Homo sapiens: one gene and its partners. Changing the gene in region 4 together with the main gene of any one other region gives a genetic interaction. Each region holds a gene or a part of one and is shown on either strand. Other genes may lie near its edges. The genes, in order: YTHDC1, CMAS, EIF3H, GTF2E1, RPP38, RRM1 and PPWD1.

Region 1 (4,664 bases), on a different chromosome or scaffold from region 4:
AAAAGAAGCAGGGGAAAGAATATTTTTCTAACCACCATCGATTTTTCATTTTCAGTGTATACATCTTCATTTTTGCAACTTTTGCAATTTTTTCCCCCTCCCCCTTAAGTTTACATTTTAAAAAGCTTATCTGTGGTTTTCTTGGTAAGACCTACATATACCCAAGGTGGAAAGTAAACATTTGTTTTAAGGAAGTCCTGTCATAGTGTGCTCAAGATAGTTCCTCTGCCCTTACCTTCCCTGTGAAGCAGAAGGAAGAAATTTTCTGATTAGCAAGATTTGGAGTGTGAACATAGAAGATACCTATCTGAAAGCTTCTCTAGCAGTTTACAATTCTATGATATCATTAGTTATTTCCTAGATTATCATGTAATCTGAGAAGAAAATTTGAAAATGGGATAATACAGTAGTAGCATCACTTAAAGTACATATTTCATGGAAAGAATTGAAACGAGTGGTAAGGAAGGTTTAATTATAATGCCATAAAAGAAAAATATAAATTTGATTTACTAAAATGCTTGATGTTTGAACAGGGTATTTAAAGGATCCACGATACCAGGAAGTGGACAGGTAAGTCGGGTTCACTCTTGCCTAGTTTTGAATTACATTCTTGGAACTAGTTTATGAATTACCTGAATTTAGTTTCACAAATCTTATTCCCAACAGACGATTTTCAGGAGTTCGCCGAGATGTGTTTTTAAATGGGGTAAGCATTTCATTTTATCTATTTAATGTGGATAAAATCAGGCTCTGATTTATTTTGCAGTTCTGTGATAATTTTTAATTATATTGACATTATCATCTTTTATTTTAGTCCTACAATGATTATGTGAGGGAATTTCATAACATGGGACCACCACCACCTTGGCAAGGAATGGTTTGTATTATTCTATTTTTATAAGTTACATAACTTAATTTGCAGTTCTAGTATTTCAGGTGCTTACTCGGAATATGATTGTTACAGTTACTCATTAAAGAGACTTAAACTGGCCAGGCGCCGTGGCTCACACCTGCAGTCCCAGCACTTTGGGAGGCTGAGGCGGCTAGATCACCTGAGGTGAAGAGTTCGAGACCAGCCTGGCCAACACGGTGAAACTGAAACCTTGTCTCTACTAAAAATACAAAAAACATTAGCTGGGTGTGGTGGCGTGTGCCTGTACTCCCAGCTACTCGGGGAGGCTGAGGCAGGAGAATTGCTTCAACCCAGGAGGCAGAGGTTACAGTGAGCCGAGATTGCGCCACTGCACTCCAGCCTGGGCAACAGAGGGAGACTCCATCTCAAAAAGACTTAAAATACAGATTTTTGATGATAAATAATTGTATGCTGTCTTTCAAACTAAAGACTAAAAGCTCATTTGTGTTAATAGTACAGGCTTGAGAACTGTAATAGTGTATTATGGTAGTAATTAGTAGTGCAAAGTCCGCTTGGGTTCAGATATATTTCTTTTTCTTCCCAACTCTGTGACTTTGGGTTAATTTCTTAATACAACTCTTAGTTTTCCTCATCTGTAAAATTCCATGGGCATTCACTGATGCTTTGTCTTATCAAATATAATATTTAGTACTTACTCTGTGCAAGGCACTGTGCTTGTTCTGATTATATCATGGTGAATGAAATTGACATCATGACTGTCCTGGTATAGCTTAAAATTTAATGTAGTAGTGTCATTTTCATTGTCAAGATAAATTTACAAAGTACATGTTAAGTTTAGCATAGTGCCTGATCTAATACTCACTAAATTTTCTGTGTAAAATAAGATTAATTAAACCCTGATTATTCCTGCTTTTTAATTATTTCCTTTAAGAAAACTGAATTGTCTTAGAGTATATTTTAAGATATTGAAGATAGCTGAAGCATTAATTTTCAAGAAATAAAAACCTGGAAGTTGAAGTAGCTTCTACTGTTTTCTTACATTTTAATTTATGTCTTTTTTTAAATGCAATATGTTATATGGCCTCTTCATCTGACTTTTGTTTCACTTTTAAGGTATACAGTTTTATACTATTATATGCAGATGATTATGAGACTTTTCCCCTTTAGATTCTAGGAAATTTTAAAAATTTAATAATATATGATCTTGATAGTAACTATGAAAGTAATCTTTAATTTACCCTTTATTCATTTTTTAAATGGCATTTAAAAGTTAATTTGCTCCTGGACTTTTTTTTTGAGAGACAGGGTCTCATTCGGTCTCCCAGGCTGGAATGCAGTGGTGTGATGATAGCTCTGTGCAGCCTTGAACTCCTGGGCACAAGTGGTCCTGCTGCCTCAGCTTCCTGAGTAGGTGGGACTACAGGCACATGCCACTGTGCCTGGCTAATTTTTTTATAGAGACAAGGTCTCACTCTGTTACCCAAGCTGGTCTCCAACTCCTGGCTTAAGGGATTCTTTTCCCTCAGCCTCCCAAAGCACTGGGATATGGGCGTGAGCCACCACACCAGGCCTGTTGATGTTTCTAAGAACAGATACATACAAAGTGGTTAACCAGTTTACCAACTGCAGAACTAGGATGCCTGATGCCGTATGCCTGCTTCACCACTTTAACAGTAGTGTGACTATAAGCAGGTTACTTAACTCCTTGTTGCTTCAGTTTTCCCTTTTGTAAACTGGGAACAATAGTATCTATCTCATAAGGTTGCTGTGAGAATTAAATGAGACTAGTAAAGTGCTTAGAACAATGCCTGGCTCACAGTAAGCACCATGTAAGTGTTTGCTATTTCCATTGTTATTTATATGATAGGAGTAGAAAAGCATAAACATGTTAAATCTTAGAAGATGTGTAATTTTCGACAAAAAGCATATTTTGAAACACCTTAATGCCATCAAAGTAAATGTCTAGTACAGATTCACTTGTTTGGGATTGGTGTTTTGGATGAAGGGTTCTAAGAATCGCTTGTTTACAAGGGTGTTGGTAGATTCTTAATGTAAATGGTTTTCCTTTTTTAGCCCCCTTACCCAGGAATGGAACAACCTCCACACCATCCTTACTATCAGCACCATGCTCCACCTCCTCAAGCTCATCCCCCTTACTCAGGACATCATCCAGTACCACATGAAGCAAGATACAGAGATAAACGAGTAGTAAGTGCACAAGGAGGCAAAGGTGTGAGGGAACTACTTAGAATTCTGTAGGTAACTTAAATATGGGGAGACCAGAGTATGATGATTGACGGACCATTGCATATTCTTACTGCAGACTGTTTTGGAATAATTGTTTGTTTTTATTAAAAATGCCTGATTATGCCCCTTTGGATTATATAGATAGAATATATTTCTTTTACTGATCAAATCACAAACTGCTTAAGGCAAACGCCTACAAATAGAACTCCTTTTAGGTAGTACCTAGGCTATGTTCTTTCCATATTGAGATCTTAATTATGCTATGTAATTAATATTGTTAATAGATATTTCTGAACTTTTTGTGTATTCTTACTCAATTTTTCTAGGATAGATCGTGTATATTAAGTTAGCTGATAAGCTGTAATCTCATTTAGTCATTTGTTTTTATTTCTACCAAATGTTAAAGCTAGTAACTGATAAATTGTTTTACCTCTGGTTATTGTGATGTTAGCAAAGAATAACCAGATGTTATGATATGTAGCAGACATGTCCTTTATTCATTGATTCTGTTAATTATTTGATAAGATTGATGTGAAAGCTTTTTTTGATGGCTTCAAAACAGGACCAGTGAAAAAAAGACTCTAGTTTTAGTTTGAGTTTTCTGGGTTTTTAACTAGTGGGGCTGAGTTTATTAAATGCTTCCCCACCCCCCCCAATAGTACTTTTATTTATAAAGCAGAATTGTCTTCTGGCAAGTGTTGGAAGCATAATTCATATGCATATAAGTTTGATAGCCTTAGAAAGGTAGTTTTGTTGTTAAACTAAGTAGGATATGCAAGTTAGAATTTTTTTCCACTCCCTACTTAGGTTGATGAGTCTGTATGGGGCCAAATAAACATCTTTTTATTTTCCCACTTAAGATGAAGAGTGGGCCTATTTGTGAGAATCAGAGCAGCTTTCTAGCCTATCTTTGAGACATTTTTTTGTGTTGTCAGTAATTTCCTTATAAAGATAGTAATTTTCTCTAAATCAAATCTTATCATGACTTCTAACATTCTGTAAAATAATTTGAGAGTACTAGTTAACTAATTCACAAACTTTAAATTAGTAGTTTATTTTCAGTTAAGCACACAAGAAAGAAATATACAGTCTATCTATAATGAAATCTTAGTTGACTAGATGGGTTGTGGTGTCTTAAAAATTCCCATAACTGATCACATGGCTTTTAAAATAGGAAGTCTGAGATTTTTTTGTTTTCCTCAACTATATCCTTTTTAACAAGTTCTATTTTATGGATCTTTATGTAGTGATTTTTTGGTTAGTATACATATTCTCTACTTACATAATCACATATATAAAAGGTAATGTGGGACTGTGTTTTCAAATCTTATTTCAGCTAAGTTTTGAGAGAAGACCAAAATCAGTAAGGTAAGCTGAGAACTAAGAGTAGAAAGTTTAAACTAGAGCAGGGGCCAAGTTTAGGAGCAGCCACAACTTTTCTTGCACATCAACTTAGTTGTAACAATTTAGTTTGAAAGAAAATCTGGAACATAATACTCAGTTTGTAAAATTGAAGTTGGTAGAATTGGAGGAAAAATGTAGA
Region 2 (4,115 bases), on a different chromosome or scaffold from region 4:
TTTAGAAAATTACATAAATGTAGCTGATAAAGCAGTGGCTTGAGAGAACTGACTTCAATTTTGAAAGATGTTCAATTGTGAGTAAAATGCTATCAAACAGCATCACACACTAGAGAGAAATCTTTCATGAGTCAATTGATGTGGTAAACTTCATTGTTGTCTTATTTTAAGGAACTGTCACAGCCACCTCAACCTTCAGCAACCACCACTGTTCAAGGCAACATCCTTCAGCAGCAGAAAGATTGACTCGCTGTAGGCTCAGGTAATTGTTAGCATTTTTAAGCAATATTTTAAAATTAAGGTATATACACTGTTTATCTGGGCATAATGCTACTGCACACTTAATAGACTACAGTTTACTTTAAACATAACATTTTATGTACCTGGCATCCAAAAAATTCCTATGACTCGCTTTATTGCAACGGTCTGGAACCAAACCCGTAATATCTCTAAGATATTCCTGTATGCAAAATTACCATTATCTCTCAGGGGTAACTGCAAATAATTTGCTTCCTCCAAATAAATACATAATCTTCATAATATATAAATTTATTTGGATATTTGTATTTGTGTATACTGCTGATCCTTGAACAACATGGGTTTGAATTGTGTGGTCCACTTTTATGTGAATTTTTTTAACCATGTGCAGATCAAAAATACATGTGAATCATGCAGTATATGGAGGGCCCACTTTTTGTATATGTGGGTTCAACAGTGTTGACTGTGGTACTTGAGTATGCACAGATTTTGGTATATGTGGGTGGTCCTGGAACCAACCCCCACATAGACCATATGCTGTTACGTATACATATGTGAAGTACAATCAGATGCTCTACCCCGGCATCGAGTGGCTTGTTTCTCACTAAGATTGGTTAATGTTTAAAGGAAAGAAAGAAAATGCATGGTAAATTTCTTCTAGAGCAACAAGGCAGTTTTCATCAAGTTTGAGAAATGTAGTTTTATTAATAGAAGGGCATGTCTTACCATACACACTGTCCCCAGATAAATAAAATCCCAACATCTTTGAAAGCACACAAACACACAGTTTTACAGGGTACAATACAAAGTGAACTTTGATGATGTTCTTACTTGCATTTACTAAAAATCTGAGAAAGACTGTAATCAGTCTCTAAATAATTATCTTGCGTAAAGAGAAAAGTAGAGCACAATATATATATATCACAAACCAAATCACACTCTCTGTAACATTACAACATGGAATTTACTTAATCAAAAATAAAAGCAAACTGGCTGAAGAAGGCTGTATCATTTTTTTCTCAATATTACGCTAATTTCTATTTTTGGCATGAATTATTAACCTTTTCCATTAGTAGGCAAATGTGCTCTGCAAATTCTCGGATGGCACCACGGCCACCATTACATTTGCAAATGTATCCAACAGCCTTCTGGGCAGTAGAACAGGCATCAGCAGGAGCGCCACTTAGGCCCACTCTCTTCAAGCACTCTTCATCAGACACTTCATTTCCTATCAAGTAAAATAAATACTGAGCAAACATTTAAAGAGACAAAGAATATTCTAGCTAAATAATGCAGACAGCAACCAACAGGTAACTCTGGCAACTTCAGTAAGACCTAGGGGCACTGCATATAAGAATACTAAAGATTAGATGGAACAAAAATATTTTACAGTATAATTGAGGTCCAGGGTTTTCCCTAAGCAATCAAAAATAAACTCTTATGAGCTAGAGAAGAAGAATGGAGCATAATTGCTACCTGCCATGCATATTACAAATGTTAGAAATTTTATATATGAATTCTAAGTAAGTTATTTAAATTTTTCATTAAGCAAAATTTCAAACATATGCGAGAACCCCAATTTTATATTGAAAAATTATCAGAATTTAAAATCACTTAGTAATATTGTTTTCTATGCACTGCCCCCTAGTTTATTTGGGGAAAGGGAGAAGAAGGAATTCCCAGACATAATATTTTATCCAAAAACTCTTCAATATTTATCTCTGATAAATATAATTTTTTATCTGACAGAATATCATTAAACCCACAAAATCAGTAATAGTTCCTTAATATCCTCTAATAACCTAGTATATGTTGAGATACCCCCAGCTGTCTCAAAATTGTCCTTTTATAGCTGACTTATTTGAATCAGGAATGAAATAAGGTTAACATATGGTCTTTTGTTTATATATATATAATCTCTTAAATCTCTTTTAATCTGTAATGGTTCTGATTGGTATGCCATTTATTAATAGTTGCTGAAAAATTACCATTTTTAAAGAATAAAAATAGATACTAAATCATACTGACATAACGATATCCTTTTCCTCCCTCTCTGTTAACCCCTTTTTTGGAATAGGATGCATTTCAGAAGCTCCCAGTATCTTTAATTCACCATTCTGAGTAAAACTATTACTATACTTTAGACCACATACAATAGTACAATCTTGGTTGAAGAGAGTTTCTTTTACATTTGTTCTATGCTTATCTACTGAAATTTTCTCATTTATTATTAAATGTGTTGAAATTTGAATCGTTTTCACTAAAATAAAAAAAGTTAGTATTTGCATAATCCAGCCTTTAAGCTCTATTTACTAAATTTTACTTATAAAAGTATTGATTTTTTTAAGAAATATATTTTTATACACTTATGTCACCCATATAAAACATTGGTGAGTGAGTTATTATTTTTTTTTTTTGTAGACATGGGGCCTCACTATGTTTCACAGGCTGGTCTAAAACTCCTGAGCTCCAGGGATCTGCCTGCCTCCGCTTCCCAAAGTGGTGGGATTGTAGGCATGAGCCATCATGCCTGGCCTGCTGTGAGTTTTAAATAAAAATGTAAATGCTCTTCTCCATTTTCTTACCTCTCCTTTTAAAGTGTGTGTGTGTGTGTTTTTTTTTTAATGTCATATAAGTAATACGTATTCGTGGTAGAAATATTTTTTTAAAAAATAGAAGCAAAAAAGTCACAATCATCCTAATTATCACTATTTGTAGATAATCACTACATTTTGACACATATAATTCTAGAGTTTTACCTATATAAATGATACACTTATTACTATCTGTAGGCACTATGTTAAGCATTTTATATTATCTTTGTTTTTCTTTCTAATGGCTTTATAAAATTTGGTTTGTGTTTATATTCTAAGTAGAAAACTAAGGTATACAGAAGCTTGCTTAACATCCCAAAGAAAGATAATAAGTATAGTTGGAATTTGTTATACATTCCACTAAAATTTTCTTCTAATAAAAATTGGATCTGTCTTTAACAAACATTCTGCAGCATTTATGTCCATTAAATCTTCATGTGTGGTTTAAGGGTTATTCCTGAAGTCTCTAGATCACATGCTCCCAAAGTTTTTCCTGTGCTTCTTATTTTGAGGCTCATATTACCCTTGTAAATACTGCTTTCATACATGATTTATAGTTATTATGCATCTTAATAACTTATCAATTTTAAAATGTTGACATCATCAGACTGTAAGCTCTGCAAGCAGAAAGCCTACAGTTCCCACAACCAGTTCCATGCTGCGTATCATCATAGGTACCTGGTAAGTAAGTGTATTGCTTAATATCCAAGTGAAAAACATTGTTATATTTGATCATGCAAATAAATACAGGTCACAGCACTGTTTGTAATGGTTGCATAGTAATCCTTTTTAGGGATATTCTATTTTTCACAGGACATTTAAGTGGGTTCTTTTAACTTCACTATTGGCCCATTTGTCTCATTTCTTTCCTGGAATTGGAATTTGGAGGAAAAAGTATGTACATTCAATTAGCAGCAAAAACTATTCAGAGTGTAATTCATATGTACTAGAAATTCTGCTAAGTGCTTTACTCATATTATTTTATTAATCCCTTCCAGAGCCCTACGGTAATAGGTACTCTCGATATCTCCAGTTTACAGATGAGGAAACAACATTCATCTTATCACAACTGGCTAATCAGTGGTACAGTCTGACTTCACAGCTTGTGCTAATAATCATTCTACATTTGATACCTATTATCAAACTAACCTCCAGAAAGACTGTCCCAGTTTAACAGTTTGATCAGCAGTGTTTGTTAAAAGAGTTCCTATTTCCCTACAATCATACCCATTTGGAGGATGTGCTTTGTCATTTCTTTAAAAA
Region 3 (4,664 bases), on a different chromosome or scaffold from region 4:
GACCTGAAAGTCTACAGAGATAACGCAGTTCATGTGGCTGTTTGTGAGTTGTGTCTCTTGTTCCTTGGCTTATAATAAACAGAAACAGTATTACTTATTATTTTTTTACCTTATTACATCAAAGTGAGCTCTTTTCAAACACTGCATTTGTTGGCGCTTCATAGGAGCAGTCATGGTGAGAACTGGGCCTCTGTGCACTGTGGTTCATTTCGGAGCTCTAGCATCCCCAGCCCCACCTTTTAAGACTCACTTGCAGTTTGTTTAGGTCCTTTCTTTATATGATGCCTCTGAGAGGGCACTTAAAAAAAAAGTTTTGTTTTTAATTTTAAAATTGGGGTGGTAAGTCCAAACCAAGATAGAGAATCTCCTTCACTTTACATAGATTAGGCCCAACACATACATTGTTTATTAGTGAAATTCTAGTGCATTGTATATTTTTAAAGTGATTTTCTTAATTGACCAATCATTGCTCTTTAGCCTCTTTATTTTGATATTTAGGTGATATGAAAACTCTTATGACTTACAAATGTGTCCAAAATCTTGCAAAATCTTTTATGTCATATTCTAAACCATGGAAGAGGAAATGGAAATGCTCCCCTCATTTCCCCTAATAAAGAAGCTGATCTCTCTTTACTCCTCAGTCCCCAGAAATATGTTGGAGGAGTGGTATCTCCACACGGCTATAGGCTTTCTTGACTTTCTTCCCTAGTTTAGAGGAACGTTTCATTTTCATTCTTACCCTTATCAGAGGTGCTGTAGAATAGGTAAGACTCTGGATAAAGAAGAAATTTGGAAGTTTGCTATGGATCTTGGAGTTTTTTACCTTGTGTATCCTGAAATGCTGTTAGAGAATCTCTTGTATTCAGGCTATTTGAGGACAGACTTAGCAAGATTACAGAATATTTTTCAGAGGAATGTATTTTTATTTTAAATCATAATGCATGCTGGAGGCCCCTTTAGCTAATAGAAAATTCTTTATTTATAATTAGTATGTCCAGTGAACAATGTGGAATAATAGCGTTTTGACTGGGATTGGGTTCTCAGATCTCTTTGGAGATGGGAAAATTAAATATCAAAGAAGAATTATTAACTGTACAGCAAGATCCCCACAGGGGAAATCTCAGAGCTGGCATGAGAACCTCGACCTCTAGATTCCAAGTCTTTCTTTTCTGCTATTATAAGTTGGCAGACTCCAACCTCTTCTTATATTGTAGCTAAATTTTATACTAATACGTTGCATAAGTTTTGATTTAAAAATAATGTTTTTTAAAATCTTACTCGTTCTGTCAGTTGCTTAATCTCTCCTCTTCCCTTTCCCTTTAAAATAAATAGCAAATTCAGTTTCAGCTCCCATTTTACTTATAATACTGGGACTTTTCACTCATAAATTAAATTTGATTAAAATTTATTAGCCAAATCAGTGATTTTACTTTGATTTAAAAGAATTATGGAATTTCGAAACAGAAGGAGATCATAGCAGTGATTCTATCCCACTTGCCAAATTTATGTGGTTGATGTGAATCTGTTAAACTAGCTGGGGGGAGGTGAGGTTCCTCTTACATGCTAGAGAAATAAAATATGAAGATAAAAAATAATTGGTGTAAGATTATCATATTTCATACTGCTTTTTCGGCTGTCATATTGTGTATAAAATAGGTTTCTAAGGTAGTGATGTTTTTAATGGTGGTTTAGAGTATAGCATAGGTTATATGACTTTGATTTTGTATTTTATTCATAAATATACAGAAACACTGGTTTGGTATACAAAGTGTCTGGTGTCTGGTATCTGGTGTCTGGTGTCTGGTATCACCTTCTCCCCCATACCCTTAGTAGCCTAACTTCCTCTATATTAACACTTTTTTTCCTTTTTATGAATAAATGAGCCCACTTTCAAAACAGGCACTTAAACTGTACATCTTTACAGTAGTGCAGTTTCCAGCTCTGTTGCAACATTGCCGTAGGCTTAAGAAAGTCTCTTCAGATAGTGGCAAAATAACTTTGGTTGTTTTTGTTTGTTTGTTTAGCTTTTCTACATAGCAAAAAAAAAATCTCAAAAAACACGCAATTCTTGTGTAGTTGATGAGTTGGCTGCCATCTTTTAGCATGAGAACTGTAACCTTCCTTGGAATAAGCAGATTTATAACTTCTTCTCCTACAAGTAATGAAAAATCAGACTGTGTCCATCTGAGGAACACTCTTTTATACTTTATGATCCTGAGTCTTGTAGGCTTTGTAAAACCATAGTGGTATAACCAAAAGAATGACAGATATATAACTTTTCTTTTGCTAAAACCTGAGTAAGAATTTTGAAAATGAAACAGGTTTCAAGTTAAGCAAATACGTTTACTCAGCATGGTCATGTATTCATTATAATAGAAATAGTTTGGGGCTGGATGCAGTGGCTCATGCCTGCAATCCCAACACTTTGGGAGGCCGAGGTGGGTGGATTCTTTGATCCTAGGAGTACGAGACCAGGCTGGGCAACATGGTGAAACCCCATCTCTACAAAAAAACAATACAAAAATTAGCCGGGTGCGGTGGTTCACACCTGTAGTCCCAGCTACTTGGGAGGCTAAATCAAAAGAATCACTTGAGCCCGGGAGGCAGAGGTTGCAGTGAGCCAAGATCAGGCCATTGTACTCCAGCCTGGGCAATGGGAGTGAAACCCTGTGTCAATAATAATAATAATAAATAATAATAGAAATAGCATGGCTATTATGTTGACTATAAAGTTTTCTCCTGTATTATATATTTGCTGTGCATTATTGTGCTATATTGCTTTTTAAAATGTCGTTTATTATATTGCTAGTTTTAATCTGTTTTTCTGGTAATACTGCTTTAATATAGTATACATTATAGTCATTACTATACTTTGTAGTCATTAATTTGACAAAAGTAAAAGTCACTAAACCTTTTCATTCTATACATGGTCATTAAAATATAACTTTATTCTAAGGAAAACATAGTATCTGTTACTTAAAGGAACACACAGACAAGAAAAAATAATTCTTTAAAAAATTTAGCATATGCAGCAGGGGGCACCAGATGAAGGCAAAAATGTACTCTTACATTTTGAATCAGCTACAGCCTGTATCCTCTTCATATATAAGCAGTGTGGTTGGTAGTTGTTTCTCCTTAGTTTTCCTAATGGTTTTAGTTTCTCAGCTCTAAAAGCTGTGTTGAAGAAGAGATTGATAACTCTTCCTCTTTTATTAATTCAAATGAAACTTCTTACAACCAACCAATTTAGTAATTACACAAATTTTTCTTAAACATTTACTATTTTGAGAGTTTCAAAAAGGGGAGTTAGACGCCACATTTAATAATTCTTTGGTTAGAACAAGGTATTAATATTGTGTGTAATACATTTTCTACAAAATATTTTTTCATTAAAGAATAAAAGGAAACCCCTGATGATTTAAAAGCCTAATTTTGTTTTGCTTTATATGTGAACTGAATGAATTTTAAATCTGGAATCCTGTTCCCTATTGCTAATAAATTGTTATGTAGACATTTGTTTCCAAAACGGCTTGTTTTTGATGTTGGTAACATCATTAAAAAGTTTTTTCTTTTAATTTCCTCTTCCCCATCATCCAGTCCAATATCAGATGGAAATGATGCGGAGCCTTCGCCATGTAAACATTGATCATCTTCACGTGGGCTGGTATCAGTCCACATACTATGGCTCATTCGTTACCCGGGCACTCCTGGACTCTCAGTTTAGTTACCAGCATGCCATTGAAGAATCTGTCGTTCTCATTTATGGTTAGTAGGAGGTTTATTATTCTTTTTTCCCTTAATATTATTACTACTATTTTTGCTTTCTGTCCTTTTTGCCTCTAAGAGCAGTCTGGCAGGCCTTCTCAAGTAAATACCAACCCTGTTTCTGCAGCAGCCTCAGCAGCAGCTCAGTCTAGACAGGGTTTCCTTCTTTCTGTTTATTTTTCTTGCTATCAGAGCCCTGATGTGTACATTTTGGAATGCTGGAGTAGCTGCTTCATTTCTATTCCTCCATCTCCCCTCCCTCATTGAAGGGGCTGGTGGAACTAGACCAGATGTCTAACAAACCCCGATTGCTAGAGTGTCTGGCTCTGTACGTGACTGACCAATCATAATACGGTGTGCCAAGTTTTTTTTATACCTCTGACAACAGCGTACAAAACCTGGACTGTTTCTTAGCACAAAGATTTTTTTCTTTTCGGCCTATTTAATGGTGTTTCCTCAAGCTCTCCAGACCAGATGTTCTGTGCTGTATCAGAACTGTAGGCAATTTAACAGCTTTATAGCCTTCCCCCTCCCCAAACACTCACAGTTTGCCATATCTGGCAGACTTGCATATAGTTTCCAGCTGAGAAGTAAATGTAACGTCCTGAGTATCTGTCAGAAAAAATACTAATGAATACGATCAATCTTATGAGCTGCCCCAAAATTGTTTCAGTATGTTAACAATTGGATTACAGTAAAGAACAAGTTGTTAAAGTATACTTATATTGGCTGGAAACATTGCATCATCAGACCTTGATGAATTTTCCACTTGTTTCAATCTATTTTGGTTTTCATTTTATCACCTATTGCTAAAAGTTTCACTGTGTTAAGTTTCAGACAACATGAATGTTAACACAGGTTTTAGGCGAATATTGGCATGCCAGAGCCGTTATCATGCA
Region 4 (4,664 bases):
GAGAACTGCAAGATTTTACTTTCTAAGTTTTAGTCTAAGTTACTGCATTCAAGACTTTGAGTGATGATGGTTTAGGAGTATGTAGAAAATGGGAGGCAAAAATGGATGACGATGACTCAAGCTGGAAAGTAGAGAGGAAGGGTGTCTCTATTTCTTGCTGAATTTTATCAGTGTAACAATCAATGTGCCGCTACTCCCAAGTTAATATATCATTACTAACATATCACGTGAGTTTGGTGATATGTTAGTGCCAAAGAATAATCAGTAGCTGAAAACCACTTGTTTTTTGGCGTTTCTCCTAGCCTCTTTTCCCTTCATAATTAGCATTTAGTATATGTATATACTAGAAATTGTGAAGGTAACGTGGAGTTTGGTAGTGATGGTAAAGCAGCTAATACCTCTACTGTGATTCTCTTTGATATATTAATTTTAATAAGAAAAGGTTTTCCAAGGCAACCATACTTTACCCTCCTTCTTCCTCACTGATTAGCCTGCCATGTTAGTTTTTTTGACGGAGTCTCGCTCTGTTGCCTAGGTTGGAGTACAGTGGTGCGATCTTGGCTCACTGAAACCTCTGCTTTCCGTGTTCAAGTGATTCTCTTGCCTCAGCCTCCTGAGTAGCTGGAATTGGGCGCAAGCCACCATGGCCAGCTAATTTTTGTATTTTTAGTAGAGACGGGGTTTTGCCATGTTGTCCAGGCTGGTCTCAAACTCCTGACCTCAAGTGATCTGCCTGCCTCGGCCTCCCAAAGTGCTGGGATTACAGGCATGAGCCACTGTGCCCAGCCTGTTGTGTTATTTAGATTGAAGTTGTTTTAGATTATACAGTAGTTAGGCTATACTACTACTTAATAAATTTGTTTTCCCCAACTTGGCTTCTTGCCTGTTCTTAAAGCAGCCTTCTTTTCTTTGAACTTAGGAAGAAAACTGAATAAAATAAAATTATTATTAACCAACATTATATATTAAGCTCATAAGTTTAACATTCTAGTTTACAGTTCCTAAAATGATAGAATATGAATCATATGGGCCTTAAATAAGTTATCTGGTCTACTTAAGTTTTGTAAATATTTATTTCTGCATAAAATAGGATAGTATGTTGTCATGTCTGAATTTATCCTAAGTTTCTTGATAGTAGAGCAGACTCTATCCAGTGAATGTATGAAGTGGGTCTTAACACTTGATTTTCCTCAAACTTCAAGTCATGTTGATATCTTTCACAATTGTATCGACTTCAATCATGTTCTCATTACTATACTGAAGAAAGTTCTAATTCCTTTTGATTCTGTTTTCCTTAAACAGTTCTCTTTTCCACTGCTGCCACCTCCTACAGTTTTTGTTTATTTTTGTCTTTTTCTGGACCATCTCTAATTGTAATATACTTTACTTGAGACATAGTGACCAGAATGATACATGTTGTTCATGCATGGATTCACCATTGATTTGAGTTTTATTTCCAGTATCTTTCTGGTTTTTACTTGAGATTTTGTTTGTTGCTTTGGTTCTGGAAGCATGTTAAGACCAAAAACTTCTAGAAACACGTAGAGGTACTTTTTAGGTTCTTCTGTGCCTTGAATCCAATAGCTTGGATCATATCTTTCAGTATATTTTAGATTATTTTTCTGCAGGCTGATTTTCTTGCACTTGCTGAAATAGAAATAGATCTGCTACTTTTCTGCCCACGTATACAACCTTCAGCTCTTCCTATATTTTTTTGCTGCAACTTGGCCTTTCAGTACCCACAATTGCTTAGCATCAATTCCGTGAATATAGTTTCCCAGTATACATCTTCTTTGTAATTTATAACTCTGTTGAAAAAGGCTGTTCCTAGAACCACTGTTTCTACTTTACCATCCAGAAATTTGCTCATTTATCCTTGTTTTTTGTTTTCTGTCTTCATCTGTAACAGAATAATTCTTTTTTCTCCAAACCTCTCAAGACCCTTGTCAGAAATCTGTTACGTGTGACTTAATTTAGTTTACAAAACTAATTTTCTTTTTCCCTAATTTAATACTTAAACATTAATCAAAATACTGTGTTGATATTATTAAACTATTTGGAACATTCTTTTAGAAGCAATTATTGTCTTAAAGGCTTGCATGCATTCCTTACCTTCTTTTCTTTCTGTTGTAGTGCTGCATTGGCAGTAAGCTCTAAGGAGGAGGTTCAGCCTTTGACAATATTTTGAAGTAGTTAAGTTTGATTTTAACTCTCATTTTGACAGTCATGTTATCAAAAGCCTCTTTTCTCTGACCTAAACTTTTAACTTGTCTGCTTCTGTTTCCCTTTCTCTCTCTTATCTGCTCAGTATCTCATTTTAGGAGTTCTGTGCCTTCTAAAATGTCCAGGGATTTAGCTAATTCATTTTAATGTGTTAATGAGAAGATGCTTTCACTTTATCCATAGTCAGAATTGACCATTTCTGAGTCTTCTCTTGATGACGATGATGATAGATAACACTATTCTAAGTGCCAGGCCCATTCTAGACACTTCACAGACATTCACTTAATCCCCACAGTAATCTAGTGAAGTAAATACTATTTTCCCCCTTTCTGTACTTGAGAAAATTGAAGCGGAGAGATGAAATAACTTGGCCAGAATCATACAGCTAAATAGTGTTAGGATTTGAATCAGGGAGTCAGGTTCCAAACAATACTTTTAATCTTTTTATGTATTTTAAATGGCAGTATGTTTGGTAGTAGTATCAGAATGCAGAATGCAGATGGTTTTCTTAAATATTTCATCTGCAGTATATCAGGTAAGATATGTACACAAAATGATAGGAGGTGTGTGGTGAGAGAAGCTTCATTCCTAAAATTAGATTCTTTTTTTATAAAGAGTTTTAAGTATGCTTAGTTTGCTTCATGAAAATAAAACTCACATTTATTCACTCATTTGTCAGATGTTTATTCAGTGCCTAACAGAGTGGCAGGTACTATTTAGGTAAATGGGATATATCCATGAATAAACAAGATAAATATCTGTTGTGGTAGAACCTACATCCTTGGAAAGGGGGTGACAAAGACAATAGATGTAAGTTATTCATTATGTTAGGAAATAAGTGCTATGGGGGAAAAATAGAGCATTGGGAATGTAGGGATAGGATACATTTAAAAGGTAACATTTGAATAAAGACATGAAAGATGGAAGGGAGTTAGCTGTGTGAGTACCTAAAGGAAAAATATTCCAGGCAGAGGGAACAGGTAATGCAAAGGCCCTGAGGTAGGAGTGTGTCTGATATGTACAAGGAATACCATGGAGGCTACTGTGGCTAGACAAGAATGAGCAGGGGAAAGAAGTAAGAGGTAGATGATCAGGAAGGATTCCAGATGATGTGGGACCCTATAGGCCATTGCAAAGCTTTTGGCTTTTACCTTGAGTGAGATAAAGAGCCATGTTTTGATTTTCTGTTATGCCAGCTACTCTAGTCGATTCTTCATAGACATTATCTTATATGTTTTTATTCAGAACCTTAGAAAGTAGATGCTTTTATCACCTCATTTTACAGAAAAAGGTATTGAAGTTTAGAGATTAAATAACTTGCCCAAGATGCTTGTGTGTAGAAGAACCAGGATTCAAATCTATGCTATAATACTCTTAAAGCCAATGTACTTGACCATTATGCTACTTAAGCTCCAGTTTGTAAGAAATATTTTGAATATTTTATGGATAGCAGCTCAAAAATGGAACCAGTGAAGTCTGTTATTTTATCGTATTATTTAAATATATGTTAAAATATTGTCTATATGCTATAAAGAAATGCCATTTATATTTAAGGATATTGACTTTCTGAGTTTTACTCCCCAGGGGGCATAGATATGGACGCATTTCAGGAGCGTGAGGAAGGCCATGCTGGGCCTGATGACAACGAAGAGGTCATGCGAGCACTGCTCATTCACGAGAAAAAGACTTCCTCTGCCATGGCTGGTTCAGTGGGGGCAGCTGCTCCAGTGACCGCTGCCAATGGCAGTGACTCAGAAAGCGAGACCAGTGAGTCAGATGATGATTCTCCACCCCGTCCGGCAGCTGTGGCTGTGCATAAACGAGAAGAGGATGAAGAGGAAGATGACGAGTTTGAAGAAGTAGCAGATGACCCCATTGTCATGGTGGCTGGCCGTCCGTTCTCCTACAGTGAAGTGAGCCAACGGCCAGAGCTAGTGGCCCAGATGACACCAGAAGAAAAGGAAGCATATATAGCAATGGGACAACGCATGTTTGAGGACCTCTTTGAGTGAGCTTTCCCTAATTCTTTCTCCTTTCTCTAATGCTCAGTTCAAAAAGGAATGTCTCATCTTTGAAGAAAAGTATTTAAGTGGCTTTCTGCCCCTCTTGATGTAAGCAACTGTCCATCCTTGTGCAAAGATTGATGGTAGAGAGTTTGACTTTTATGCCAGAAACTTTCCCAGCAAGGTAGGGTGCTGAGAATCCTACCCTTCCTTGCTGTCACTACAGTATTAATATTTTACTGTATTTTCTTTTCTTTTTTTTTTTTTTTTGGAGATGAAGTCTCACTCTTGTACCCCAGGCTGGAGTGCAATGGCGTGATCTCGGCTCACTGCAACCTCTGCCTCCTGGGTTCAAGCGATTCTCCTGCCTCAGCCTCCCGAGTAGCTGGGATTACAGGTGCCTGCCACCATGCCTGGCTAATTTTTGTATTTTTAGTA
Region 5 (3,366 bases), on a different chromosome or scaffold from region 4:
GTTAGAAGATTAATACCATACAGTCACTAGAAGGTTAATTATGAACAAGTAGAAACAGAATATTTTTAATAAATGAAATAGACAAATGGAATTGTACTATGATTGCAATAATTAAAACTTTCACATATTGCTTGTATAGGAATAAAGACAAAGTCATATAAAAAAATGGGGAAAATTAAACACTACTCACCCATAGTCCTGAGTATTTTAAAGAGCCTTCGTAGAGCATTCAAAATCGGGTAAGAAAAATGGGGAAAAATAAAATTACTTAATCTTTAAAAGGAAGACAAGCGTATGCTCACCTAATTGGACTTATATAATCAGGCTTGCTCTAGCTTATCCAGAATCAGAGTACAGGCCGGGCGCAGTGGCTCATGCCTGTAATCCCAGCACTTTGGGAGGCCGAGGTGGGTGGATCACCTGAGGTCAGGAGTTTGAGACCAGCCTGGGCAACATGGTGAAACCCTGTCTCTACTAAAAAAAAATAGAAACATTAGCTGGGCTTGGTGGCGGGCGCCTGTAATCCCAGCTACTCGGGAGGCTGAGGCAGGAGAATCGCTTGAACCCAGGAGGTGGAGGTTGCAGTGAGCTGAGATTGTGCCACTGCACTCCAGCCTGGGCAACAAGAGTGAAATTCTGTCTCAAAAAATAAATACATAAATAAATAAGAATCAGAGAGTACAGTCAAGATATTCTTAAGTCATGCAGTTGTCGCTAACATGAATTTTTTCTGTTGTCATTTTGCTTCTTGGAAGGATTTTCAAAATGGCTGCAGCTCCTCAAGCACCGGGGCGGGGATCTCTCCGTAAGACGAGACCTCTGGTTGTGAAGACGTCGTTGAACAACCCATACATCATCCGCTGGAGCGCTCTGGAGAGCGAGGATATGCACTTCATCCTACAGACGCTTGAGGACAGGCTTAAAGCTATTGGACTTCAGAAGATTGAAGATAAGAAGAAAAAGAACAAAACACCTTTTCTGAAAAAAGAAAGCAGAGAGAAATGCAGCATTGCTGTTGATATTAGTGAGAATCTGAAGGAGAAGAAAACAGATGCTAAGCAGCAAGTGTCAGGGTGGACGCCTGCACACGTCAGGAAGCAGCTTGCCATTGGCGTTAACGAAGTTACCAGAGCCCTGGAAAGGAGGGAACTGCTGTTAGTTCTGGTGTGTAAATCAGTCAAGCCTGCCATGATCACCTCACACTTGATTCAGTTAAGCCTAAGCAGAAGTGTCCCTGCCTGTCAGGTCCCCCGGCTCAGTGAGAGAATCGCCCCCGTCATTGGCTTAAAATGTGTTCTAGCCTTGGCGTTCAAAAAGAACACCACTGACTTTGTGGACGAAGTAAGAGCCATCATCCCCAGAGTCCCCAGTTTAAGTGTACCATGGCTTCAAGACAGAATTGAAGATTCTGGGGAAAATTTAGAGACTGAACCTCTGGAAAGCCAAGACAGAGAGCTTTTGGACACTTCATTTGAAGATCTGTCAAAACCTAAGAGAAAGCTTGCTGACGGTCGGCAGGCTTCTGTAACATTACAACCCCTTAAAATAAAGAAACTGATTCCAAACCCTAATAAGATAAGGAAACCACCCAAAAGTAAAAAAGCTACTCCAAAGTAATCTTGCATAAACTTGTCATGTCATACAGTTTGTGAAAGGACACCTTGTAAAGAAGCCTTGAAACTAATAAAATGAGTTATACTTACATAGATTCATAGGGTCCTGTTTGGTAATATTCAAATGTGTAAGACTCTTTGTAACTATGGCACAGATATACTAAGTGCAGGAAATATTCAAAATTAGGAATAGCCAAACAGACATTTATTGAAACTAGTGTTCATGCGTGTGTAAATTGACTTTTTCTTTTTCTTTTTTTTTTTTTTGAGACAGTTTCACTCTTGTTGTCCAGGCTGGAGTGCAATGGTGCGGTCTCAGCTCACTGCAACCTCCTCCTCACGGGTTCAAGCAATTCTCCTGCCTCAGCTTCCCAAGTATCTGGGACTACAGGTGCGCACCACCATGCCTAGCTAAGTTTTGTATTTTTAGTAGACACGGGGTTTTACCATGTTGGCCAGGATGGTTTCCGTCTCTTGACCTCGTGATTTGCCCACGTCAGCCTCCCAAAGTGCTAGGATTACAGCTGCGAGCCACCGTGCCTGGCCTTTTTTTTTTTTTTTTTGAGACAGAGTTTCGTTCTGTCGCCAAGGCAGGAGTGCAGCGGCGCAATCTCGGCTCACTGCACCCTCCACCACCCAGATTCAACGATTCTCCTGTCTCAGCCGCCTGAGTAGCTGGGATTGCAGGTGCCCACCACCACACCCAGCTCATTTTTTTGTATTTTTAGTAGAGATGGGGTTTCACCATGTTGGTCAGGCTGGTCTCGAACTGACCTCGTGATCCACCTGCCTTGTCCTCCCAAAGTGCTGAGATGACAGACGTGAGCAGCCGCGTCCAGCCTAAATTGACTTTTTCAAAGGCTGGTAGAGTGCCTGTGAGCAAGAATATCTGTGTCATACAACGCTTAGCATTTTCCTATCAAACCTGGAAAATGTACCACAGTAAATGTTCTAGTCAGTCAGGTAGATGGAACTGAATTGGGGAAGCATTATCAGTTTTAAAGGAAAGATCCCAAATGCCAAGCAATCCATTGTCTTCAGAAGCAACACATCATTTTTCACTTCATGTCAATTTGACTTTTAGGAAGGAATAGACATGAGCTTGGGAGAAAGACTTAATATTTAGAGAAAAAATATCAAAAATATAGAAAAAGTCAGATAAGGTTATTTTGACTGGGTACAGTTCACCCCCATTACGTGATTCACTTACCTCCTTGGAAATCTAACGTATAAAAGGTATGATGGTAATTGGATGAAATGTGGCCAAAAGATTAAAAAAACTGAGGAGCTTGGGTTCTCAGAGGTGGGTGTGTGACAAGAGTCCTTCAGGTTAGGAGATGGAGCATAACCGATGCTCTGTTAGAGTGTCTGCTGTTTACAGTGTGTATGGAAAAGTTACTTTCTGTAATTTAGAAGGAAGGTATTTACTAAAGATTTTTCCAGCTGAAAGTCTGGCTGACTCATGGATTATGCCATCTCTCGATTTAAATTTTACTTAGTGCCATCTTGGCCAAAAAGAAGAAAAAAAGATACCTTATTGAATAGAACATTTTCATTATAGACAAAGTACAGTACAATGCAGTTTTAAATCTACAAGAAACTATCCATTGCATTTCAATTTAGTTTTAATAGCTACTTCATAAGCAAGCAGTTTAATTCTCGAAAATGTTAATTAGTAATCTGCTTCAATTATGGAGGCAAATGTAGTTATTATTCTATTTAAAAGTGGTTAATAATTTGATAACAAATTATG
Region 6 (4,664 bases), on a different chromosome or scaffold from region 4:
AGATCTTTTCTTTGCTCTTTGGATTCCGGATCTCTTCATGAAACGAGTGGAGACTAATCAGGTGAGAGATAGGTACTTGTTGGTAATAGCAACTTGATTCACATGAGCTTTCTCTTTTTTAGTCATCTTAAGTCATGCTTAGGAAGAGCCCATATGTGTGTGATGCCACAGAAGGCATTCTGAACAAGTTAAGAGATGCCGTGCTTGTCTTCTTATATTTCTATTCTCTAAAGTAGATGCTTTGTGACCTAAATGCTTAAAAGGTCATGTATAAACAGGCAGACCTAGATGTTTGGGCCTGAACCTGAAAATGATTATTTCTACAGCAAATTTCCAAGAGAGCTTGTAAAAGTCACCTTATGCTTGCAGTGTTTCTAATGGATTATGGTTGGCTATTTGAAGTTTCTTATGAGTGATTTTGTCCTTTCCTTTTTAGGACTGGTCTTTGATGTGTCCAAATGAGTGTCCTGGTCTGGATGAGGTTTGGGGAGAGGAATTTGAGAAACTATATGCAAGGTATGGGAAAAATATGAAAGAAAACAATAATGTTTTAATCATGGTTTCTCTTATTTCAGGGGTCCAAATATCAAAAGTACTTGTCAAGAATCTTTTGAAGCATCTAAGAGAAAAAGTGACTAATAATTTTGGTCAGATTTGCTTCCTGACTCTTCACCAAAATTGAGTTGTGTCTTCTTCTTTCTTAAAACTTTGGAATGTATAAATAGGTTCTTGGGATTTTTAATTGATCCTTTTAAAATTTAAGATGACTAGTAGGGTTATTATTTTGCTCTGTCATATAGTACTTTTGATAAGCTATGCTTTATGTTGCATAAAGGAATCATGAGTGACTAGGACACATATGTCAGTAGTTTATTAAAATTAAATAGGTCAGGTGCAGTGGCTCACATCTGTAGTCTCAGCACTTTGGGAAGATGAGGCAGGTGGATCATTTGAGGTCAGGAGTTCAAGACCAGCCTGGCCAACATGGTGAAACCCTGTCTCTAGTAAAAATACAAAAATTAGCTGGGCGTGGTGGTGCACACCTGTAGTCCCAGCTACTTGGGAGGCTGAGGTAGGAGAATTGCTTGAACCTGGGAGGTGGAGGTTGCAGTGAGCTGAGATTGTGCCACTGCACTCCAGCCTGGGTGATAGAACGAAACTCCGTCTCAAAAAAAAAAAAAGGAAAAAAATTTAGCACAGTCTTAAGAGATTTGGCTTCCTTAGTTTTTACTCCTTTTTATTATGAAAGATATTATTGGTTTAGTGGGATTGCGATCATCTGAAGGCACCTAAAACTGCCTCATTTTCCCCTATGGCTTTAGCTAGAGTAAAATAAATATCATATTCCTTTTTTTCTTTAGCAAAACTTAGAGAAAATTTAAGAGTTTTCATAACTTTATATTTTAATGTCTTCAAGTTGTCTACAATAAAGTTTTTTTAGGGAATATATATTAAATAATATTATCTGTGCCTTTCAGTTATGAGAAACAAGGTCGTGTCCGCAAAGTTGTAAAAGCTCAGCAGCTTTGGTATGCCATCATTGAGTCTCAGACGGAAACAGGCACCCCGTATATGCTCTACAAAGATTCCTGTAATCGAAAGAGCAACCAGCAGAACCTGGGAACCATCAAATGCAGCAACCTGTGCACAGAAATAGTGGAGTACACCAGCAAAGATGAGGTAGGTAGAAAAAATTCTTCCTAGAGTACTAAGAAGAGAACCTTAGGCAGTTATTATTTGTGAATTCCTCACTTGATTTCACTTGAGATAAGTGAAGGGAGTTTGCATAGTTGTAAGCAGAAGAACACTGTTAAAGGCAGAGAGCAAAGGAAGGAAAGGGTATGATCTGTGCCTATAAATGTTTTTTAGTCTAAGCCGTGTGGGAAAGACACAGTTTTTTCTTATACACACATCACTGTAATAACATTTACTCAAGAAAAATAGAAATATACAGTTATGTTAGTTTAGGACACACACAAAAATGTGTTAGGATGTACATTCAATTTAAACTATGTAAGCCTTGAGCCTGGAAAGTGGAGGCTGCAGTGGGCTGAGATTGTGCCACTGTACTCCATCCTGGGCGACAAAGTGAGACCCTGTCTCAAAACAAACAAACAAAAAACCAAAAACAACAACAACAAAAGTATGTAAGCTTATAAAGAGAGTCCTTTCAGTGAATGGTGAGATCAAATTCTAATCTCAAGTCTGTAAAGAGACTTCACAGAAGAATCAAGGCTAGAAATGGGACATGGATTTGGTGTTTTAAAAAAAAGTTTGAGAGAGGAGCTTTCCATTTGGAAAGAGTGGTCTGTATGATACACCAGAGACAGGGCTGGGTTTTATGCAGTGTGGCAAGTAAGTCTGTTTTGATGGTGCAAGTAGATTAATTATTGGAATATGGAGAGATGGCTATGGCTGGGGGAAGGGAGATAGAAGGTAGAAGCTGACACGTCACGGATAGGTAGCCCTTGTAGGTTTCTGAGAGGAAAATAGCATCAAAATGTTAAGATGAAAAGGAAGGTTCTTGCTTCTGGTTACAGAGTGTCTTGCTGTGAGAAGGGATTAGAGGTTAGCCTAGGGAGATTGTTGTACTAGTTGGATGACAGGCTGCTTTGATCTTGGATGTAAACTATGGAAACGAGGAAGGAGTAGATCCTCAATTCTAGGACCTTAAAAAAAAAGACAAATGAAAAGTCAGGAAGTAAATGGAAAGTGAGTTAAATATACTGCTAAGGTTACAGTTTAATTCAAAATTTATTGTGCAGTAGCTATATGTAAAACACAATGTTAAGTGCTCTGAGAATATAAATAAATATGCTGCCCTCTGGAAACTTCTAATTTAGTTGGAAGACATCGACATATATTGAGGTAACTATTATGCAAGACAGATTATATTATAGAGGCTAGAGTGACATTTTTAAAATAAAAATCAGATAATGTCATTTGTCTGCACAAAACTACTCTTTGGCTTGCTAACCCATGCAGAATTCCTTTTTTTTCGGGGGGCGTCAAGATTTCACTCTGTTGCCCAAGCTGGGCTGTGGCTCACTGCAACCTCAACAGAGTTCTTTCTTTTTGCAAATTGAGCTATAATTCACTCTTTTTAAAATGTACAATTCAGTGTTTTTTTTCTTTTCTTTTCTTTTCTTTTTTTTAGTATATCTGCAAGTCTGTGCAACCATTACCACTATCTAATTGTAGTATTTATTTATTTTATTTTTTTTTTTTTGAGACAGAGTCTTGCTCTGTCACCAGGCTGGAGTGTAGTGGCTCGATCTCGGCTCACTGCAACCTCCGCCTCCTGGATTCAAGCGATTCTCCTGCCTCAGCCTCCCGAGTAGCTGGGACTACAGGCGCGTGCCACCACACCCAGCTAATTTTTGTATTTTTAGTAGGGACGAGGTTTCACTATGTTGGCCAGGATGGTCTCAATCTCTTGACCTCGTGATCCGCCCACCTCAGCCTCCCAAAGTGTTGGGATTACAGGCGTGAGCCACCGTGACCGGCCTGTAGTACATTTTTATCACTGTAGATAATGAAACCCTTTATCCATTAGCAGTCACTCCCTGTTCCCTTCTTCCCTCAGCCCTTGACAACCACTAATATATTTTCTGTCTCTAGATTTGTGGACATTGTGGACATTCCATAGGAATGGAGTCATATAATATGTGGCCTTTTGTGTCAGGCTTCTTTCACTTAACATGTTCTTTTATTCATGTTGTAGCATGTATCAGTACTTCATTCCTTTCCATCCAGAGTTCTTACAGTGCCCTACAAGGTCCTACACAACTGGATAACCCACCTCATCTGCGGTTACTTTCCCCTTTGTTCACTTTGCTCCAACCCTATTAATTTTCTTGCTTTTTCTCAAACATGTCAACCATGCTCCTACCTCAGGATTTTTGCTCCTTCTTCCCTCTTGAATGTTAAAATGCACCCCCTCTTCCCATAGCCACATGATTTGCTTTCTAACCTGTTCAGTTCTTTGTTCATATGTAACATTTTCAATGAGGTCCTTCTTGACAATTCTGTTTAAAAATTATACCCCCTTCATCTTTATCCCCAGTACTCTCTGTCTTCTTTTCCTGCCTATTTTTCTTCCTGGCATTTATTAGACTTCTGTGATTCAAGCTATATTTAAAAAAATGGGTATTTGGCAACATGTGTAGAATGGAGTAGATGTGAAGGGCATCAAGAGTTCAACTGGGAAACTTTCAGTAGTCCATGTGAGAGAAGTTAAGACTTTGGCTTGGGATAGTCATAATCAAAATGGAAAAGAAAGTGTATTCATTCAACATTATCAAGACTTACTGTGTGCCAGATGTGTTGCTAGTGCTAAACATATAAATATAAATAAGATGATCCTTGTGTGAAGAAGCTCACTGCCTCGTGTAGTGGAGAAATCACTGGAAGAGCTTTTTCAGAAATCACAAATTGAGATCCATTGTTGCTAAGGGCTTGTCAGAATATCAGTGAAGGTGAGGTGGACGTGTGTGTTTTGAAGAACTCTGCAGTGATGGAAATGTTCTGTATCTGATGGCTATTGAGCACTTGAAATATGACTAGTGCAACTGAGAAACTCAAATTTTATTTCATTTTAAATAGATATATGTAGCCAGTGGCTACCATATTGCAGGGCACTCATCTACTGAATAATGAGATAG
Region 7 (4,664 bases), on a different chromosome or scaffold from region 4:
TAAAATTCCCGTTACTTTGACTTAAGGAATTTTGAAGAAACGTTTGATAAAAAACATCTATTCCTGAGCTTTCTGATAAGTGTTACGGTAGAAAATGGGAAATTTTTATGCATATATACTTTATAGGTTCATTACGAGGACAAAATGTATTGGCTATGAAAGTGCTGAGTGTAAACTGTAAAGTGATACACAAATGTGTATCACTGTTACTGTTAACAGCACATCTGAACTCTAGGTTTTGTGGATTGCTTTGCTTTCCTCTCAAAGCAAATCCTTAAGAGAAAGATAATTATGTTTCCTTACCAACAGTTGCTAGATACCTACTATCTCTTTATAGTTTCAGTAGCTCTGTGTTTTAAAAGTGAACTACAAGCTGGGTGCAGTGGCACGCACTTGTAATCCCAGCTATTCAGGAGGTTAAGACAGGAAGATCAGTGGAGGCCAGCAGTTTGAGACTAGCCCGAGCAACACGGCAAGACTCTATCTCTTAAAAAAAATTTTTTTTTATTAGCTGGGCATGGTGGCACGCACCTGTATTCCTGGCTATGCTAGAGGCTGAGGTCAAAAGATGTCTTGAGCTCAGGAGTTTGAGGCTGCAGTTAGCTATGGTCAAACCACTGCACTCCAACCTGGGCAACAGAGTGAGACCCTGTTTCTACAAAAACAAATTACAACAAAACCGTAAGGGCTTCAATTGAAAAAAAGGTGAACAGTTTTCTGGACAGTTTAAAAGACTGTAAAATTAACATACAATGTCAAATACAGTAGAGTATCTCTGGCCATTCTTGACCCAAAAAATGACATCTTTTACAACACTTTTACTTAAAAGTTCTTATTTATTAACATTTTGAATATGAACGTTTTATACCATATCTTGGTACTCAACAAATAACTAGGCAGCTCTAGACTCTTGGACAGTCTCACTTTAAGTGCTCAAAACCCATGTACTCTTCGGCCTTGTTTGCTGATGTACTTGGGTACAAGATTCTCTTGGTTCGTCCATTTCCAGCTCTTAGAAGTATTACATGGTAATGAACCGTATGAAATAATTGCATAATTTTCAGTTAATATTATTGAGAAAGCTTCGTACTCTGAGTGTGATTGTCATTTAAAGTTGAATAAATTTAGATGTCATTTCTATGATTAAGGTTTTGGCCAAGAGTATGTCGCTGTAGCATAACAATGCTTTTGTAAGAAAATGACCTTTCCCAGGAACTTAACCTATACTACTACATGCAGACCTATAATACTATATGGAGTAAACTAACTTAAGATATTGGGCCAGGTACAGTGGCTCAGGCCTGTAATCTCAGCACTTTAGGAGGCTGAGGCAGGAGGATGTCTTGAGTCCAGAAAGTCAAGATCAGCCTAGGCAATATAGTGAGACCTTGTCTCTTAAGAAAAAAACATATTTTTAAGGTGCTATGGCTGTATTTTTTTTGACTGCTAAATGACCTTGAAATTTTAATACTGTCAAACTCAAATATTAGTTAAGCAGTCATGTTCTAAAGATAACTAAGTTGAACAATAAGAATATACTACTTACATGACCCTCCGTGCTTGTCCTGAGATTAGAGATTATGAAAAAAAAAAACAACTGTCCTTCTGAAACATTCAGAAGACATGGAAAGGAAACATCATTAGGAAGCAGAACTGCAAAGAAAACTGTTTTAAGATGCTCTGAATAGGTTTCATATTTGTAACATATGTCTTAATAGGTGCCCTAAGACAGTGGAAAACTTCTGTGTTCACAGCAGAAATGGTTATTATAATGGGCATACATTTCACCGTATAATTAAGGTAAGTTACATAAATTTCATGTCATATAAGAAATACTGTATTATTACATAGCAAGAGATTTAAGCGCAAGGAATCTTCTTCTCTCACACTTAATCAGTTTAGTGGAAAGGAACAGGAAAAATACACTATGGAAGCCAAAGGAGGAGTGGATGGTCATAAATATCAACATCTAGAATCAACAGGAATAGTGGCATGATTAGAAACACTGAAGCAATATTTTGTCAGCAGCTAAAGTAAAGGGTAAGATAATGAATAAAGGGTCATGCTGAGATTACATCAGTAACCTAGGTAACCTCTTTGTCGTGGCTAGATAGGGTCTAGATCTAGAAGATATGATTTTTCAATCATAGAGGAGCCACAGTGCCATCTGATCTGTGAGAACCTGTAATATACCAGAGGAGGAGAGAGAACTCAGCCCCTGGATTTTGTTGAGCAGCTTTCCATAAAGTGGATGGGGCACTGATACAGTGCTTGGTTTCTGGCAGGTCAGAAACGGCAGGATGAAAAGTCAGATCTCAGGGTCCTAAAGGAATTAGCGAAAAGGCTTTCCAGGAAATCCAGAGTATTTGGGGAAAGGGAGAGGGAGAAGAGGAGGGCAATTATATAAAACATAACATACAGATCCTAAAATTGATAGTATTAACTGGCTTTATTTGGGTTATTGAGAAAGACAGAACATGTCTATAAATGAGAAGACGACCTTTGCATTTATGTTTCAATCAAGGTGGTGGTTGGGCAATGGAAATACATCATCCAAATTTAAGTGTTAAGGGTTTAATCAAATCACTTTATAGTGACAGTTAATATTACACTGAATACAAAGCACTCTTGGCAGAAATAAAACTTCAAAGCGTACATATATCGAAAAGGACAATGTAATGTTTTTGTGTACTTTCTGTTAAGGGCTTTATGATTCAGACTGGAGATCCAACAGGTACTGGTATGGGAGGAGAAAGCATATGGGGAGGAGAATTTGAAGATGAATTTCATTCAACATTACGACATGACAGGCCATACACACTCAGCATGGCTAACGCGGGATCAAATACTAATGGATCCCAGTTTTTCATAACGGTAGTACCAACGGTAAGTACAGTATCATTGTTTATAAACTACAGATTGATAGGTTATGATGTAAGAGAGTGAACTCAGTAGAAGAGCTGCATTATTCTGTATTTTCTGCATTATTTATATCATCTAGCAGAATACAAATATGAAAATGATCAAGAATATAAAATTATGTGACTAATCAGTTTAGAATTGGTAAAACAATACTGCCACTGTAGTAAGAAATACAATGGACTACGATTCAAGATACTTGAGTTTCAATCTCAACTCTGCCTCTACTGATGATGTAACCTAAAATAAATTATTTCACTTCTGTGAGCCTATTTCCTTGTCTTTAGAATACAAAGATTAGAGTATATGAATTCACAATTTTGAGACAATTTCCCCCACATTTTAGTATCTCTGAAATCAGAATACATTAGATTTGATGAAATACAGTATAAGGTAACCTAGCTCTATTGCTATGCCATAACACAAAATTATAAAAATTACCTAGTTTTTGTTTTGGAATTAAGCACTAAGTGATGAAGAAGGGAAAAATGTAACTACCATCTGCCAGGCACATAGTTTTATGTAGTATTCACAGTACTTCTACTATCAGTATCCCCAGTTTTCAATAATAGATGAAGAAACAGTGAGACATGATTAACTTGCCAAAAGGTCAAGTAGCCAAGCTAGCATTTGAACTCCCACCTGTCTAATGCCAAAGTATGTGCTGCATAAACTATTTCAAACTGCCTCTGAATAAACTGTTCAGGTAAGAGTCCTCCAGAGACCTTTTAAAGCCTTAGCCACAATTCTGTAAGCCATGTGAAGTAACTTACCTTTAGGGAAGATCTTCCAGTTCCCTTTGGTCTGAAAGATGCAGATATTTAATTAAACATTATACTATGCTTCTATTTTTTTTAACACACTGGAAATAACTTTTAAAAGCTGCTACATTTTTATTGCTGAGAAATTATTGTACTTCTTTTTAAATATATGCTAAAGGGGAGCGTAAACTTAAATTCTCTTTAATTTGCTCAACCAGAGGATATAATTTAAAGAAATTGGGGTTTACCAAGATTTTCCATTTGTCCTCCAACACAGCCTTGGCTTGATAATAAGCATACAGTATTTGGACGAGTGACTAAAGGAATGGAAGTTGTACAGAGGATCTCCAACGTCAAAGTCAATCCCAAAACAGATAAGCCCTATGAGGATGTCAGCATCATAAATATTACTGTCAAGTAAAATAAGATTTGTTTTAATGTACTTGCAAATAAAAATACAATATTAAACAGATTATTTTACATTAGGAAGCTTAGGACTTGCTGAATATACAGATCATGTTTCAAAGATACAGTATTTTTGTATTTTTTATTAAAGGCTATTTTTTAAAAATTACCTTTGACTTTTCTCGCAATATTTCTAATCCTGGGAGGTGATAAATTGAAATGGACTAAACTCAGGCAAATAGCACTCATTATAGGTAATTTCTAATCAGCCTCAAATTAAATATTAAATAATTACAGTACTCTCCTCCACCCCCTTTCCCATGGTTTTCTTTCTACTGTCAACCATGATCCAAAAATAGGTGAGTACAATACAGTGAGATATTTTCAGACAGCAAGACCACATTCACTAACTTTTATTACAGTATACTGCTATAGTTGTTCTATTTTATTGTTGTTAATCTCTTACTGTGCCTAATTTATAAATTAAACTTTATCATAGATATATATATATGAAAACACAATATATATGGGGTTTAGTATCATCTGAAGTTTCAGGCATCCACTGGAGGTCTTAGAAGG

What was found.
Region 1: changes in GTF2E1 (region 4) and YTHDC1 together harm fitness less than expected from each alone (positive genetic interaction), as found in Homo sapiens cells (one large-scale study listed by BioGRID).
Region 2: changes in GTF2E1 (region 4) and CMAS together harm fitness more than expected from each alone (negative genetic interaction), as found in Homo sapiens cells (one large-scale study listed by BioGRID).
Region 3: changes in GTF2E1 (region 4) and EIF3H together harm fitness more than expected from each alone (negative genetic interaction), as found in Homo sapiens cells (one large-scale study listed by BioGRID).
Region 5: changes in GTF2E1 (region 4) and RPP38 together harm fitness less than expected from each alone (positive genetic interaction), as found in Homo sapiens cells (one large-scale study listed by BioGRID).
Region 6: changes in GTF2E1 (region 4) and RRM1 together harm fitness less than expected from each alone (positive genetic interaction), as found in Homo sapiens cells (one large-scale study listed by BioGRID).
Region 7: changes in GTF2E1 (region 4) and PPWD1 together harm fitness less than expected from each alone (positive genetic interaction), as found in Homo sapiens cells (one large-scale study listed by BioGRID).

Annotation. Positions count from the first base shown.
Region 1 is NC_000004.12:68,314,732-68,319,395, reverse strand, and holds part of YTHDC1 (YTH domain-containing protein 1), read left to right. Parts: intron 1-533; coding exon 534-570; intron 571-642; coding exon of another isoform or gene 643-666; coding exon 667-706; intron 707-814; coding exon 815-877; intron 878-2,947; coding exon 2,948-3,082; intron 3,083-4,664. UniProt on the Homo sapiens protein: Regulator of alternative splicing that specifically recognizes and binds N6-methyladenosine (m6A)-containing RNAs.
Region 2 is NC_000012.12:22,062,492-22,066,606, reverse strand, and holds the end of CMAS (N-acylneuraminate cytidylyltransferase), read right to left. Parts: intron 2,835-4,115; exon of another isoform or gene 2,680-2,834; intron 1,487-2,679; coding exon 1,296-1,486; 3' UTR 939-1,295; downstream 1-938. UniProt on the Homo sapiens protein: Catalyzes the activation of N-acetylneuraminic acid (NeuNAc) to cytidine 5'-monophosphate N-acetylneuraminic acid (CMP-NeuNAc), a substrate required for the addition of sialic acid.
Region 3 is NC_000008.11:116,657,914-116,662,577, reverse strand, and holds part of EIF3H (eukaryotic translation initiation factor 3 subunit H), read left to right. Parts: intron 1-3,597; coding exon 3,598-3,765; intron 3,766-4,664.
Region 4 is NC_000003.12:120,777,236-120,781,899, forward strand, and holds part of GTF2E1 (general transcription factor IIE subunit 1), read left to right. Parts: intron 1-3,807; coding exon 3,808-4,235; 3' UTR 4,236-4,664.
Region 5 is NC_000010.11:15,102,550-15,105,915, forward strand, and holds the end of RPP38 (ribonuclease P protein subunit p38), read left to right. Parts: intron 1-755; 5' UTR 756-765; coding exon 766-1,617; 3' UTR 1,618-1,708; downstream 1,709-3,366. UniProt on the Homo sapiens protein: Component of ribonuclease P, a ribonucleoprotein complex that generates mature tRNA molecules by cleaving their 5'-ends. Also a component of the MRP ribonuclease complex, which cleaves pre-rRNA sequences.
Region 6 is NC_000011.10:4,121,705-4,126,368, forward strand, and holds part of RRM1 (ribonucleoside-diphosphate reductase large subunit), read left to right. Parts: coding exon 1-61; intron 62-436; coding exon 437-516; intron 517-1,478; coding exon 1,479-1,680; intron 1,681-4,664. UniProt on the Homo sapiens protein: Provides the precursors necessary for DNA synthesis. Catalyzes the biosynthesis of deoxyribonucleotides from the corresponding ribonucleotides.
Region 7 is NC_000005.10:65,583,296-65,587,959, forward strand, and holds the end of PPWD1 (peptidylprolyl isomerase domain and WD repeat-containing protein 1), read left to right. Parts: intron 1-1,718; coding exon 1,719-1,800; intron 1,801-2,703; coding exon 2,704-2,886; intron 2,887-3,957; coding exon 3,958-4,101; 3' UTR 4,102-4,254; downstream 4,255-4,664. UniProt on the Homo sapiens protein: PPIase that catalyzes the cis-trans isomerization of proline imidic peptide bonds in oligopeptides and may therefore assist protein folding. May be involved in pre-mRNA splicing.